2 linked regions of the Homo sapiens genome follow. The protein of the gene in region 2 interacts with the protein of the main gene of each other region in a pairwise test. Each region holds a gene or a part of one and is shown on either strand. Other genes may lie near its edges.

Region 1 (7,619 bases), on a different chromosome or scaffold from region 2:
AAGCACCCACCACACCCGGCTAATTTTTGTATTTTAGTAGATACGGGGTTTCACCATGTTGGCCAGCTGATCTTGAACTCCTGACCTCAGGTGATCCACCTGTCTCGGCCTCCCAAAGTGCTGGGATTACAGGCATGAGCCACCGTGCCTGGCCTCTGCATTTTTTTTTTTTTTTTTGGTGGCCACATCACGCACTGGCTCCCTTGACTTCAGCGGCCAAGGCCAGCAGATCCCCCGGGTGATGCCCCGTGTGCCATTTGTTTTCCTTCGTGAATGTTCTTTCCTTCCCCCAGGAATGACACTGTTGATTTGTACCTAATTATAGAGCCTCACATTTATCCTCCTAACATTTTCTCCTTTAGCCATGGGCCATTTTCATAGCCTGCCACTAATTGCCGTGGGACCCCAGATTTCTTTTCTGATGGACTCGGTACTCCATGGTTGCAGCTGTGTCCCCAAGGGCCACTGAGGTCCTCTCAGAGCCCTTCCCCTACCCTAGAGGCCCTGGCCAATCAGGGCTCACCTGGCCCTGGAGGACATGGGTCGTGGGGGAAACGGGCCGCAGCTGCCCCAGGCCCTGTCCTCTGGGTCTTGTCCACCCCTCCCCTGCCCAAGGACAAGGTGGCCCCTGTCCCCAGGGAAGGGGCCTGCCTGGTGCTTCCCTTTCTGTGCTGAGGCTCCTGAGGCAGCTCCCAGCCCTCAAGCCTGGGCAGACCTCACAGTGGGCCTGCTGTTCCAGTTGCTGTTTGGGGACCCAAACATACCATCTTCCCCATTTAGAATGGGGGTCCCTCCAGTGCCCTGGCTCTGTACACCTCCCCATAGAAGAGCTGAGACAAGAGTGGCCCCCAGTGCCGGTCCCTGGGGCCTAGGATGCTTAGGACCAGCTTCCAGGGGAGGGATGGGGGCACTGCTTGGCTCCGCCAGGCTCTGCCGGAATGGGGGCACCATTCCCCTGAAGAGTCTCTCAGTCTGCCTGAGCATTAGGGTCTGGGCCCCCAGGGCCACCACACTGTCATGGGGCAGGCCAGGGCACCTAGGACTTCTCAGAGGTGCCAGTTCTTTGTTTTTGCCAACCGGGCTTGCCTGCTCTGTCAGCCAAGTGGCGTGTCTGGGGTAGGGGGGTCGCTTCCCAGCCAGTGAAGCCACCAACTTCTGTGGAAATGCTCGGAGCTGTGTCCTCAAGGGCTCTTTATTTCCCCAAGACAACAGATTGCTTGTGTCCTAGACAATGAAGTTTTCATCCCCAGCCTGCATCCTGGACCAGCCCGCCACTGCCCCGCTGGCCACCTCTCTGCATCGGGCACCCAGTGCCAGGGACTGGTTGGGCAGCTCAGCCTCTTTGCCATTCACCTGTTTTGTCACCCAGACTGGAGTGCAGTGGCTTAGTGTCAGCTCACTGCAACCTCCGCCTCCTGGGTTCAAATGATTCTCCTGCCTCAGCCTCCTGAGTAGCTGGGATTACAGGTGCCTACCACCATGCCCACCTATTTTTTGTATTTTTAGTAGAGACGGGGTTTCGCCATGTTGACAGGCTGGTCTCGAACTCCTGAGCTCAAGTGATCCACCCGCCTTGGCCTCCCAAAGTGCTGGGATTACAGGCGTGAGCCACTGCACCTGGCCTGTCATTGATCTGTTCAGTGGCCATTTGGCCTTTGCTCTGACTTGGTCACTCTGGGTTGAGTGTCCCCAGCTGTTCAGGGAGAATGATAATATTTACATCTGTCCCTGGGGCAGCCCTGAGAATGTGGACAGCTGAGGCCTGCAAAGCACTGGGGACCCAGCCTGGCCAAAGTGCTTGAGGGCAAAACTGATGGGGCTGGGTGCCATGGCTCACGCCTGGAATCCTAGTACTTTGGAAGGCCGAGGTGGGTGAATCACTTGAAGTCAGGAGTTTGAGACAGCCTGGCCAACATGGCAAAACCCCACCTCTACTAAAAATACAAAAATTATCTGGGCGTCGTGGTGCACGCCTATAATCCCGGCTACTCGGGAGGCTGAGGCAGGAGGATCTCTTGAACTCAGGAGGCGGAGAGTACAGTGAGCTGAGATTGTGTCAGTGCACTCCAGCCTGGGCGAGGGAGATTCCATCTCAATACAAACAAACAAAAACAAACAAACTGATGGGGCTGAGGAGCCACTAAGGCTGTACAGCTGGGGCAAGGCTGGAATGGTGTGAAGGTGTCGGGAATGCCTGGGCAGGGCCCGAGTTTCCTGTCTTATTTCCTGAGGACGTGAGAACTGAGCAGACCTCCCTGGCCTTGGCCAGGCTCCCGTAGCTGCCGTGGAAAGGAGGTTAAGGTTGGTGGTGTAGATGGGGGCCCTCACAGTGAGTCCATCTTGGCCCCCAGTGGCCTGGGAGCCGATTCTCATCCCTACTGGCTTGGTTGGGAGGTGCTGGGCCACACGCCTACATTCACTCCACCTCTTTCCATCTTTCTTTTTTTTTTTTTTTTTTTTGAGATGGAGTCTCGCTGTGTCGCCCAGCTTGGAGTGCAGTGGCACGATCCCGGCTCACTGCAACCTCCGCCTCCCAGGTTCAAATGATTCTCTTGCCTCAGCCTCCACCACCACACCCGGCTAATTTTTGTATTTTTCATAGAGACGGGGTTTCACCATGTTAGTCAGGTTGGTCTCAAACTCCTGACCTCAAATGATCCGCCTGCCTCGGCCTCCCCAAGTGCTGGGATTACAGGATTACAGGCATGAGCCACTGTACCCGGCCATCTTTCTGTCTTTCTCTGAAGTCCACTTGGTAGCCCTGTGCGGGGCACCCATGGTGACGTGAGAGAATGCCAGCCCCGTTGTCTTAGGTCTTTCACGCCAGGCCAAGCAGTGGTCTTTGGGGAGAGGAGAGGTCTGAGCCGAGGGGTCTTGAAGGATGAGTAGGAGTTTGCTGGCCGCCCCAGGGGGACAGGCTGCCCTATGCGGTGGGAGCTGGGGTGCCCAGAGCCTCAATGCCCACCCCATAAGGCAGAACCACGACTCCCGAGCCACGTGCTGGGGTTTGGGGTAGGACAGTGAGTGTGGCAGTGAGTTGCGAAGGAAGAACTTGGACTGTGGATGCAGAAGACCTGGGTTCAAATCCTGCCTGGCTCACTTCCCAGGCGGTGGCTCCAGACAAGTCACTTGGGGAGCACCGTTGGGAGGTGAGGGCGAGCCCACAAACATGCATAGCTTCAGGGTCCTGCTCTGCCCCGCACCCCGTTCCCCATCCAAGCCTCAGTTTCCTCATCTGTAAAAATGGGCTACAGGAGGCTTCTGCGAAGTAACGCACATCAAGAGCTTTGTTAGCACAAGCTCATCGAATATTCTCCTTGTTCTTGTTATTCTTGGCTTCCAAGCAGCCAACCAGAGCGGGTACCAGGTGGGGTTGTAGGGGCTGCCTGATCCTGCCCTCCTCACCTGTGGCCCAAGGGTGGTGACCTGGCATCCTCTAGGTATGGGGCAGGCGGCATGCGTGGGAGGCTCTGCCAGCCTTTTTGGCATTTTGTTTGTTCACTTGACAGACATTTTCTTGGGTGTTTATTGTGTGCCAAGCACTGTGCCAGGACCTGATTCCTGCCCTTGGGGCAGACTGGCAAAAGATAAATGCCACCTGACAGGTGAGAGAGTGGCAAGAGTGACGGAGGAAGAACTGGGTCCGGGAGCAGGGTAATTCGGAGAGTAGAGTTTTAGTAGCATAGCAGGGAGGGCCTTCTTGGCCAAGTGGCATTTAAGGGGCCACACGAAGGGGATGAGGGAGGGAGCCAGGTGTGTGCCTGGAGAAGAGCGTTTCTGGCAGCAGGAGCAACCCGTGCAAAGGCCCTGAGGCAGGATCGCACCTGGCGTGTTGGGGGAACAGCATGGAGGCCTGTGTGGCTGGAGCAGAGTGAGCCGGGGGGGGGGCGGGAGGGAGGAGGGGAGGGCCCTGTGGGCAGCGGGGAGGACTGTGGCTTTTCCCCTGCGGAAGGTGGGGGCCACGGAGGGTTGTCTGCAGAGGAGGGAGGGAGGTGCCCTGGCTCGGCACTCACGGGCGCTCTCTGGTGGCTGCTGCAGGAGGACAGCGTTTTGGTTGGTGATGAGCGTGAACACAGGGACCGCACAGACAATACCTTCCAGGGTCTGAGAGTCTGGAATGGAATCGCCCAGGGAGACATGGTGGGGTGCACCCCTCGTCCTCCCTTCTCTTGGATCTGTTTCGGATGTGCTGAAGGATTGATTCTGAGATGCGAGAGAAAGGAAGGAGTCGAGAATGACTCCAGGTTTCTGGCATGAGTGCCTGGTAGGACCAAGCCAAAGTTAACCAAGATAAGGAGGGTAGGTGAGCGGTGGGTGAGCAGGCTTAGGGAGTGATCGGGAGCTTGGCTCTGCTCTTCTGGGTATGAGGGGCCTGGGGCCCCTGAGGAGACATGAAGGAGACAATGGGCACGCCAGTCTGGGCTTCTAGGGAGAGAGGTAATATAGGAGTTACCAGCCCATGGCTGGTATTTACAGCCATGAGCCTGGATGGGGTCACCTGGGGACTGGGTGTGGACAGAGATGCCTGTCCTGAGGCTCCCTGAGGTTCGAAGGTAGAGTGGGAGACTGAGTGGGAGTGACTGTGAGGAGAGGAGTCGGGGTGTGGAGCCCCTGCAGGCAGGGAAGGAGGGAGAGCTGGCTGGGTGCCTGCTGCACAGGCCCGGGGGAGTGGGGGTAGCTGAGGCTGACACTGACTGTGGGGGCGAAAGCGTGCTTGGTTTGAGTTCTAGGACTGGGGGACAGGAGGTGGAGTGAGTGAGTGTAGATGATACCTTCCAGTGCCCGAGGCAGGAAGTTGGGTCAGGAGAGAATGTTTTCTAGAGGGAAAATTCCAAACGTGTAGGTACAGCCCCACAGTGTGGCCAGGGGAAGGGCAGAGGAGGGCTGCCTGGTGGGCTCCAGGGCCTGCTCCCTCAATGTAGCAGGGGTCCCGAGTGGGGCCAGCGGACCTCTGGGTCAGCCAGGGCTCAGCCTGGCTGCCAGCACCTCCCCGAGCTCAGGAGGAACAGCCATACCCATCTCTTCCCAGACAAGGAAGCCTCATCCTCAGTGGATGCCCCCTAACTCCCTGGGACCAGGGATGACCAAGCCACTGAGCCAACCCACCCTCAGGTGCCGGGGCCCAAGGCCCACACTTGGGGGTCCACGGGGCTTCTGGCTGGGGCGTCTGGTTGGCTGTATTCAAGTGCACACACACACACTGATCTTCCCCACATGGTATGTTCTGGGTCTGGGGACAGCTCACCCAGACCCCACCCCAGAGCCTGGGGCGGCTGGGCCCATAGGGACAGTGCTTCCATGGCTGGGACAGGAAACAGTTTACAAGGCAGCTCACCCCTGGCCTGACCAGCAGGCACCTGCTCTGCTCAGGGAAAGTGTTCCTGATGCTCCTTGGCCAGCATGAGACAGGCCTGCTGCACACCCCGTGTCGACTGGGCTCAGGCCCCCGTCCCTGGGTGCTGTTGCCCACAAACCCTCATCTCTGTTCTGTCCACGCTGCGCTGACTCCTTTCTGGGCCAGGGTTTGCATCTTGGCAAGCTGCTCTGCTGTGCACCCCCCTCCTGGGACAATGCATACCTGTGTTGGAGCCTTGTGAGGAGCTGTGCACACACGTGGACTGCCACACGGACTGCCCCTTGAATGAGGACTTAGCCTTGGCTGGAGCTCCCTGCAGCTCAGCAGGGGACCTGACCCTGGGGACAGGGGTGGTGGGAGGTGGCTGCAGGCTCTTTCCTCCGGGCTGCGTCCTCAGGGCACATTCCTGTTTCCCACTCAGCCATCTGTGCCGAAGCTGGATGTGGGTTTGCTGCACCAGGAGAGGTGGGGGTTGAGGTGGGAGTAGCTCCTCATGTCCTGTCACTTACATACCTGGAGCAGTGACCCTTCCCATGCCCTGACCAGAAACCACAACAACCGTGACAGCTGCCTACTCGTGTCCCTTCCTGTGCGATGCCTGCTCTTTTCGTGGGGGGAGACAGAATCTCTGTTGCCTAGGCTGGAGTGCAGTGATTCGATCTCGGCTCACTGCAGCCTCCACCTCCTGGGCTCAAGCGATTCTCCTGCCTCAGCCTCCTGAGTAGCTGGGGCTACAGTAGCCACCACGCCCAGCTAATTATTATTATTATTATTTTTTTTTTTGAGATGGAGTCTCGCTCTGTCACCCAGGCTGGAGTACGGTGGCGTGATCTCGGCTCACTGCAAGCTCCGCCTCCCGGATTCACGCCATTCTCCTGCCTCAGCCTCCCAAGTAGCTGGGGCTACAGGCGCCCGCTACCACACCCAGCTAATTTTATTGTATTTTTAGTGGAGATGGGGTTTCACCACGTTAGCCAGGATGGTCTCGATCTCCTGACCTCGTGATCCACCCGCCTCGGCCTCCCAAAGTGCTGGGATTACAGGTGTGAGCCACCGCGCCCGGGTACTTTTTGTATTTTTTATAGAGACGGGATTTCACCATGTTGGCCAGGCTGGTCTCGAACTCCCGACCTCAAGTGATCCGCCTGGCTCATCCTCTCAAAGCATTGAGATTACAGGCGGGAGCCACCGTGCCTGGCCATGCCTGCTCTTACTTCCTCCTCCTGTGACTGCCTTCCTGTTCACACATTTGGAAAAAGTAGTCCAGAGGTGAAGTGACTTGCCCAAGGTCACCCCGCTCAGGAGCCTTCTCAAGCCGTGTCTGGCTGCCCAGCCACCAGGCTGCAGGTGGAGGCTCAGGGTTGATGGATCTCAAGCTGCTCTGCCTGCCTGGCTGCCTGGGTCCCCTTGCCCCAGCTGGGACAGCCCTGCTCTGAGGACCAGACACAGGCAGGTGTTGTGCTATCCGCAGTGGCTGTTTCTGGAAGGCAGGAGCCTGCCTTCACTTCTGCACCACTTAGCACAGTGCCTGCAGGCCCTGGGCTCCAGGCATCTCTCGACTCCTCCACACCGTTGGCAGCCGCGTTGGTGCAGCACCCAGGGAACCGGCGGGAAGGTTGTGGGGGCAGTCGTGGGTGGAGTGTGGGGATTCACAGAACCTCGCCTTCCCGCCCAGTGGTGCTCATCGGGGACTCAGGCGTGGGCAAGAGCAACCTGCTGTCGCGCTTCACCCGCAACGAGTTCAACCTGGAGAGCAAGAGCACCATCGGCGTGGAGTTCGCCACCCGCAGCATCCAGGTGGACGGCAAGACCATCAAGGCGCAGATCTGGGACACCGCTGGCCAGGAGCGCTACCGCGCCATCACCTCCGCGTGCGTGTCGGCAGCCTGGGCAGGGACGCTGAGATTCGGGGGCGTGGGCTTGCAGCGCGTGGGCTTGGAAGGATGTGTAGGAGTTGGGCAGGAGAAGGGGAGAGTGTGCTCCCAAGACCAGGGAGTGAGGCTGGAAGAACGCTTTAGCCATGCGCCGTGGGACCCTCAGGCTGACCAGCGCCCAGCCTTCGCCACACCAGGGTATCTCTGGGTACCAAGTGCAGTGAGGACCTAGCTCAGGCCACTCCGCCTTGCCGCTGCCCCTGCCCAGCCAGCATCCCAGCCTTCCTCCTCCCTCAGCTTCCCTCCTCACTGGTGCCCACACCTGGTCCCACACGCCTCCTGTCCTCCCACCTGGGCCTGGCCTCCATTCCCTGCAAAGGCTTCCCAGC
Region 2 (7,619 bases):
TTTACTCCTAGTCCTGGGCAACATCACAGTTACAATACATTTGGTGTGAGCAATACTCTAATATTATGGTCTCTCCTTATAGAAATTCTCTACTGGCTATTATATAAAATTGATTAGAACTTTAGGGGTAAAATGCTTTTAAATGTTATCAACAGGGTTTGTGATGTTATTGCATTCAAAGTGATTTTCATATATTGCTAAACCCTTAACATTTTATTTGTGGATAAATGGGGACCATGTATTTGATGAGATATCTTTATTGGTAATATTTCTAGTTTTTTAATATATTTAATAGCTTCCTTTTCTAGCACAGCTGTACCTGTGGCCCAGTAAGAGACAGACTTGAGCCGCCGGTATATTTCAAGGAAGATATTTAATATTCTGCACATTGCTAAACTTTTTCAGCATATTCCCAAGTGCTTTTTAGAAAACTGTTTCGAGTGATGAGGACTACCAGCTAACTTAGATGTCCTATGAAACTGCTGGGTGTGACACTTTTTACATTTTGACACTGAAGACATATATTTACAGCTTGTCTTCCAGTTGTGTCATGATAGATAAAGAAGTATGACAACTAAAATTATTACTTTACTTATTTTCTTACCTTGAAAATATATGTCTTTTTTCTCTCTTAAGGAATGGGGAAAAAGGGTCTGAGCCAGAACCCTTTGAGTGGGCCTGGGAAGAGAACTTCTGTATCTCCTCCTTTAGAGGATGTCTGGGTTGGTTCTGGCATGAGATTTAAAGAAATAATACAATGTTTAGTAATAGAATGTTAAAATCATTGATGCTGTTGTGTAATATCCATTGATTTTTTACAATAGAAGTAGGTGATGTTGACTTTTTTTTTTAATGCTCATGAAAAGTAATAACAACCAGAGTCTGTAGAGTTAGATGTGACTCAGACATATGCAGATTTTAGGACGTGTGTGTGTCTCAGCGGTGCACCTGTGTCCTGGCCTCTGGCACCCTTACTGCCAATTTTGTCCCATTTCTGACCACACAGCACCAATTGCTTGGGAATAGTTCCCATATGTGTGCTGGTTTTTGAACATGGACCTGTGCCCACTAAAAATTGAACAGAGGCCATGTACAGTTTAAATCCAGTACTCCAGAGGTGAAAAAAAGTCAGCTAATCCAGTAAGCTCCAAATGCTGTGTCTTCGTTTTATCTTTCTGAAGACTGGAAAAACAAATGCTATCTCTGAAATGATTCTTGAAGATCTCATTAAGACTTCCCTATTATGTCATTTTCAAAACAAAGCAACTAAAGTTATTTGTCATTGCTACATTTTCAATGAGTATATTTGTAAAAGTTCTTTGCAGTTTTTTTTGGGGGGTGGGGAATGGACATTATAGTGTATTTACAGTTTGTAGTCAAATACTGATTTGCTTTATTCAGGTTTACATAGGTCTTTACAGTTTCCTACTAAAAAAACAAGACAATGTAAACACATACACACACACACACAGTTGTAGCTTACTTGTAAGAATATAGTTCTAGAAATAAAAATTGAATAAACATTTAATGCAAGGCAGACTGCCTTCCAGGAGCTTATACTCTAGCAGTAGAAAATTTGCATTGTCTTTCTCTTCAGCTCTCATGTCTCCTTATTAAATACAGTGTCCTGCAGTATGTGCCAGCCATGTGGTTAACCTTATTAACATATGTGGTTCATCAAATAAGAAAGAGCTTCTATTTTCCTGCAGATGTTATTCATCAACTTTAGATTTTTTTCTTTATTGACTTTAATCTGACATTGGGAAGTTACATATCATTCCTTGTGCCTCAATTTCCTCATCTATGAAATAAAGATGTTAAAGTAGATGATTTATTGGTCTTATCTCTAAAAGTCTGTGAATTTCCACTACCCCCACCCCCTTCCATTTTGGGGGTAATTAATTTTTTTTTACTCATATTTGCTTTGATTTGTTACATACGTGCTCGTTTTTGTTTGCAAATTTTTGGTACATTTTTTGCAAAGTATATTCACCTACATTCTATAAAGCCTGAGGTACTACAGAGTATTTCTGAGCTACTGTTCGTCAGATGTGTTTCTCTCCCTATTGAAAATAGCTCTGTTTTCCAAAACTTTGAGTTAACTGGGTATATAATCTGCTTCATTTCCAGGCTTTTTGAGTGCTCAATTGTATGTTATTTAAGGTTGTCTATTTCACAGAAATCGCTGTCATTTCTTATTTCTAGCCCCTGTTTCTTCAGATTTTACCATTTGCCTTATATAAGGGATTTTCTCAGTTTAAGGTCTCAGGCTAATAGTATTTTAAAATATTGATATTCTAAGAAATGGCTAGTTTTGATGCAACTATATCTGAATTGATTGAATAGCTCCAATTTAGTTAATCAAGAAAATATTTTTCTTCCATGTTACGTGCAAAGATGTAGCTGGTATTTATATCATGTGCCAGTATTTCAACTTGATATACAGTAAATGTAATCTTCTCTTGGCATATCCAGTTGGTAACAATGAGAGAAAGAACTAATGTAAAATTAGATCAGAGTTCCTTTGTAGCTAAGAAAATTTGTTACACTCGATTAGAGCTATATTTAAATAATAACCTGTGTGCAGGAATGGATATTATGCCTCATTGCTAAGTTATGTGAAAACATTGTAGAAACTCTTTCAGGCTTGATTTTGTAGTTTTTTTTGGCTGTTTTCCCATAGAATGACCACTTGTGACATGGCCAACTGGAGAATTTCTCATGGATAAAAATACTATAAAACCAAAATATTGCTTCTTGTATATCATTTAAATACAGATAGTGCCATACATTGAAGGGACTAAAACGTAAGATTTGGCTTCATTTTCAAAATAATTTTTATTTGGTATTGTCACAGTAGCAATAGTAAAATGAAGCAAATAGATTCAAACAAGAAGCATTTTAGGTTTTTTTTTTTCCTTTTGAAAACTTCACAAGATTTATTTTTTGTCACTTCTTGCATTTTACTTATTTTTTGCATATTTTATTCAGGAGTAGGCTTTGATTCATTTTATGTCAATCTAAATGACATCATATGCTGTTTTAATGATTAGCAAGCTATATGCAATGATCTCCAATGTTAACAAAATTCTTTTGCTACTTTTACGTAAGTAATATTTTGGGATGGGGCCAGGTATTTATTATTGTATTAAAATGTCATGAGATTCATTTTATAATGCTCAAAAATAATTTGTATTGGTGAATTCTTTCAAAATCTCTGCCTCAATGTCTTTTAATGTTAAAAAAAAATGTCCTTAGGCCGTGAGCAACACTTAATCCCATATGGAAAACTTCTAGCATTGATAAGAATTTTTGATGATGAGTGATTTTCAAATTACAAAAGAAAAGATTATCTGAAAACATTTTCAAACTTGCCAAAGACCTATTCATTCCTTCAGTATATGTTACATCACAGAGACAATGATCAGTTTTTTAAACTAAATAATAAGTAAAGCCCGAAATACTGTGGCTGACAGATTCTTATTCAGAGCTTAGGTTGCCTTGATGTATAGTTACTTTACCTAAAAGGCTATTTGTATGTAACAGAACTCAGTATCCTCTCTCTATTATGTGTTACAGCCAATTTTTTTTTCTTCTCTTTAAGGTGGTTTAGATTAGAATCCAAACAAGGAAAACGAATCAAAAACAGGGGTGAGATAAAGGTCAATATTCAGTTTATGAGGAACAATATGACCGCAAGTATGTTTGACTTATCAATGAAGGACAAAACCAGATCTCCTTTTGCAAAGTTAAAAGATAAGATGAAGGGTAGAAAAAATGATGGAACATTTTCTGATACGTCTTCTGCAATCATTCCAAGTACTCACATGCCCGATGCCAATAGTGAATTTTCAAGTGGTGAAATACAGATGAAATCCAAACCAAAAAAGCCTTTTCTCTTGGGTCCTCAGCGACTCTCGTCAGCGCATTCAATGTCTGATTTATCTGGGTCCCATATGTCTTCTGAGAAACTGAAGGCTGGCACCATAGGTCAAACACATCTTCTCGGACACCAGTTAGATTCCTTTGGAACAGTTCCAGAAAGTGGTAAGTGTCACATTCTTGTGTACTCATTGGTCTGAACTACCCTTTTAGTTTTTAAAGTTTAATTTCTAAATTTAGTAAATCAAAATAGCAGTTGCTTTGTAGTATTTTCCAAATTTTGTCATTCATCAAATATTGAGTACCTACTATACCTCAAATTGGTAAGTTCCTTGAAGGCAGAGCTTGTCTGCATTTGTATTTATATTATTAGATGATAATAAAATGAGTGCCAGTTTCCTTTTATGGCTTGGCTGCCTGTTTTACTGCTGTTTCTGCTATCTCAAAACCCTGAGCATAAATGAATGTTCCATTTCATCATAAAGTCCTTAGAAGAAAACTTTTATGTTCAGAAGTAAGAAAGTAAATTTAATGCTAATGAAAAAGTCTCTGAGAATTTTTAACATTATCATGCCAACCAGAACCTCTAGTTTTGACATCATAGTTTATATGATTGTGAGCTGAATACATTACTAATGGTCTAGCAATATGCTAGTTGTTATCAGCCTCGATGCTTCAGACTGCTACACCTTAGCATTTTAAGATTGTTTCCTTGATTTTTTGAAGGTTAATACATTTAAGTGGCTAATTGCTCTCATTCTAAAAGCAGCAGAATGCACACAGACTGTGTCAAATAGTGTGATGTAATGTGTCACTGATTATGTACTAACTACAAAATTGTTTGTAGGAAGTCTCAAATCTCCACACAGAAGAACATTAAGCTTTGATACTTCTAAAATGAACCAACCTGACAGCATTGTGGATGAAGGTGAATTGTGTTTCGGAAGACAAAATGACCCATTTACAAATGTGACTGCTTCATTACCCCAAAAATTTGCAACACTGCCAAGGAAGAAAAATCCATTTGAAGAAAGCAGCGAAACATGGGACAGCAGCATGAATTTATTTTCAAAACCAATTGAAATAAGAAAAGAAAATAAAAGAGAGAAAAGGGAGAAAGTTAGCCTGTTTGAAAGAGTGACTGGAAAAAAAGATAGCAGAAGATCTGATAAACTTAACAATGGGGGATCTGATAGCCCTTGTGACTTGAAATCACCTAATGCATTTAGTGAAAATCGCCAGGACTATTTTGATTATGAGTCAACCAATCCATTTACAGCAAAATTCAGGGCTTCAAATATAATGCCATCTTCAAGGTAAGCTTAATATGGGGGAAGTTCTACTATTTGGGAAAATCTTGTACTTGAAGGTATCAAATATTTCTTTTAAATGCTAGAATATTTTCAAGTCATTTTATTTTATTTGAAAAACATTTTTATTTGTATAATTAAATTATAGAGCCAGGCAATGTTGCATATATTTTTGGAACTGAACTTTTTTATCTTAAGAAGATAAAAGACTCTTATTCTCTATCCTGGTCTACTTCCACTTATGTGAGCCAGAAATTCACCAAAACTTAGAAAACAACATGGCTTGTGATGAGACATGGCGAGAGTGAATTGCCAGTGGGTGTTAGTTCAAGCCAGAAATTTAGGTGATAATGTTTCTAGGGATTCGTTCATGGGCTACCTGGAAAGGACCAACAGCAGCCCATGTGCTATTCTTTAAAAAACGCCAGCTTCAGTATTAATGGCTTTCCTAATAGATGTTAATTATCCTTATTAAATGGCTATTTAGAAGTGGTTTTTATTTGAGAATGCTTGTTATTGGAATTCAGTAACCCTCATGGGTTCTGTAGGTATACCCAAGGGATCTATATGATGATTTATAGTCAGAAATAATCACTCATGAGAAAGATTGGATTTTCCAACTTTGAGTTTTCAGTTATATATATAATGGTGCTTTTCTTATTCCTTAGTATATCTAAATTATATCTATATATCTAAATTTAAATCTATATCTATATAAATTTATATCTACATATATAGATATAAGTGTAGATATGCTAAGGAATAAATTTAAATATGGTTATGGATTTTACAGAAGTAAACGATGAAATAGCTGATTAAGGAAACCTCAAGCAAAGAAAAGATAAATTTATTCCCATCTTAAGTATAGTTGGCCCCCCATATTTGCAGGTTCTGCATTTTTGGATTCAATCAACCATGGAGTGAAAATATTTAAAAAAATAAATAAGAAATAACAATATAGTAATGAAAAAATAATGCAGATTTAAAAAACAGTACAGTGTAACAACTGTTTACATTGGTTTACATTGTATTAGGTATTATAAGTAATCTAGAGATAATTTAAAATATATGGGAGGTTGCGTATATGTGCAAATACTGTACCATTTTGTATAGGGGACTTGAATATCCCTGGATTTTGGTATCCTTGGAGTCCTGGAACCAATCTCTCTCAGATACTGAGAGATGACTGTAATTATCTTGGAAGAGCATGCTAGAGTGTTTACCACGTAATAGAAGATTTTCTTCAAGACAATATTATAGAGTGTACAGACCTGAATGGGAATACTGGCTTAGAAGTGCTATGACCTCCATAAACCTCAGTATCTCCATCTTTGAAACAAGGAAAATAATCCCACTTGATAGGATTCGGTGAGGATAAATGAAAGTACATAATACAAAGCCAGGCCCCAAATAGGGAATCCATAAATGGTGACTACAATTATGTTTGATGTATCGTCATGTTATATTTTACTAAAAAACAGTGCTTTGTTTTGTCCCACTAGAAACAGCAAATAGAGTATTAACAATCAATCACTTTTAGGCTGTGCCCTCTCACCTCTCTTATGTATCTTCCATGATATTTTAAAAATTTGCATTTAAATTTTCAAAGTGAAGTGTACTTTTTTTGTTTTCTTTTACCTATAAATGGATATTTGCCATGGTTTAAAAGAGTATTCTGTTCTGTTTATAAACCATACTCCAGAAGAATAACATTTTTATCATATGGTATCAATATTTTATTGAAGAGTTTATAGTTTTGATATGCCATTCAAAAATATTTTGGTATTTTACATACTGTACTTCACATATTACATTAAATCTTATATGGGTAAATAGAAATATATTTGCTTCTTTCCCTCTTTACTAAACTTTTTTTTACAGAAGGTTGTTGGAAACAACTGTCTGAGGTAACTTGGAGATGGGGCAATTTAGCTAATTTTAGAGTCAGAAGAAAAGCAAGAAAATGGAAAATGATAGGAAAATAATGTTTTTACATTATGGGTGCATATGGAAAAAAAAGCTTATTGAGTATTTGCAAATCTTTAATTGCCCTGTATTTGAGTTGTTTATGTGGGCTGTTACGGGTTTTAAAAGTGCCTGTGGCATTTTGACACATCCAGGCTTTGTTTTCAGTTACTTTATTATTATTGGCTGTTTCTAGCAAAATTAGAGCTGTTTTATGATGTATGAAATGATTGCAAGTATGTAAAAAAAAATAGTTGTTTTTCATTTTATGACTTTCTCTTCTTCATATTTATGAGATGCCAGATATGAGGACAGAACATTTGTGGATTCCTAGGAAGTTATTCTTTTTGCATCACAAACCATCCGTGTGGTAAATGTAAAACATTTGCAGTAAAGGGGTAGTTCTAGTTAATCTTATAAAAAAGAAGAATTGAATATAAATAGACCCAAGAAGAGTGTGCA

The links. Proteins that work in one complex are often made in the same cells at the same time.
Region 1: the proteins of RAB11FIP2 (region 2) and RAB11B interact in binary tests that used the Homo sapiens proteins (3 or more experiments, as listed by UniProt).

The regions. Positions count from the first base shown.
Region 1 is NC_000019.10:8,392,832-8,400,450, forward strand, and holds part of RAB11B (ras-related protein Rab-11B), read left to right. Parts: intron 1-7,031; coding exon 7,032-7,227; intron 7,228-7,619. UniProt on the Homo sapiens protein: The small GTPases Rab are key regulators of intracellular membrane trafficking, from the formation of transport vesicles to their fusion with membranes.
Region 2 is NC_000010.11:118,036,551-118,044,169, reverse strand, and holds part of RAB11FIP2 (rab11 family-interacting protein 2), read left to right. Parts: intron 1-3,604; coding exon 3,605-4,047; intron 4,048-4,729; coding exon 4,730-5,198; intron 5,199-7,619. UniProt on the Homo sapiens protein: A Rab11 effector binding preferentially phosphatidylinositol 3,4,5-trisphosphate (PtdInsP3) and phosphatidic acid (PA) and acting in the regulation of the transport of vesicles from the endosomal recycling compartment (ERC) to the plasma membrane.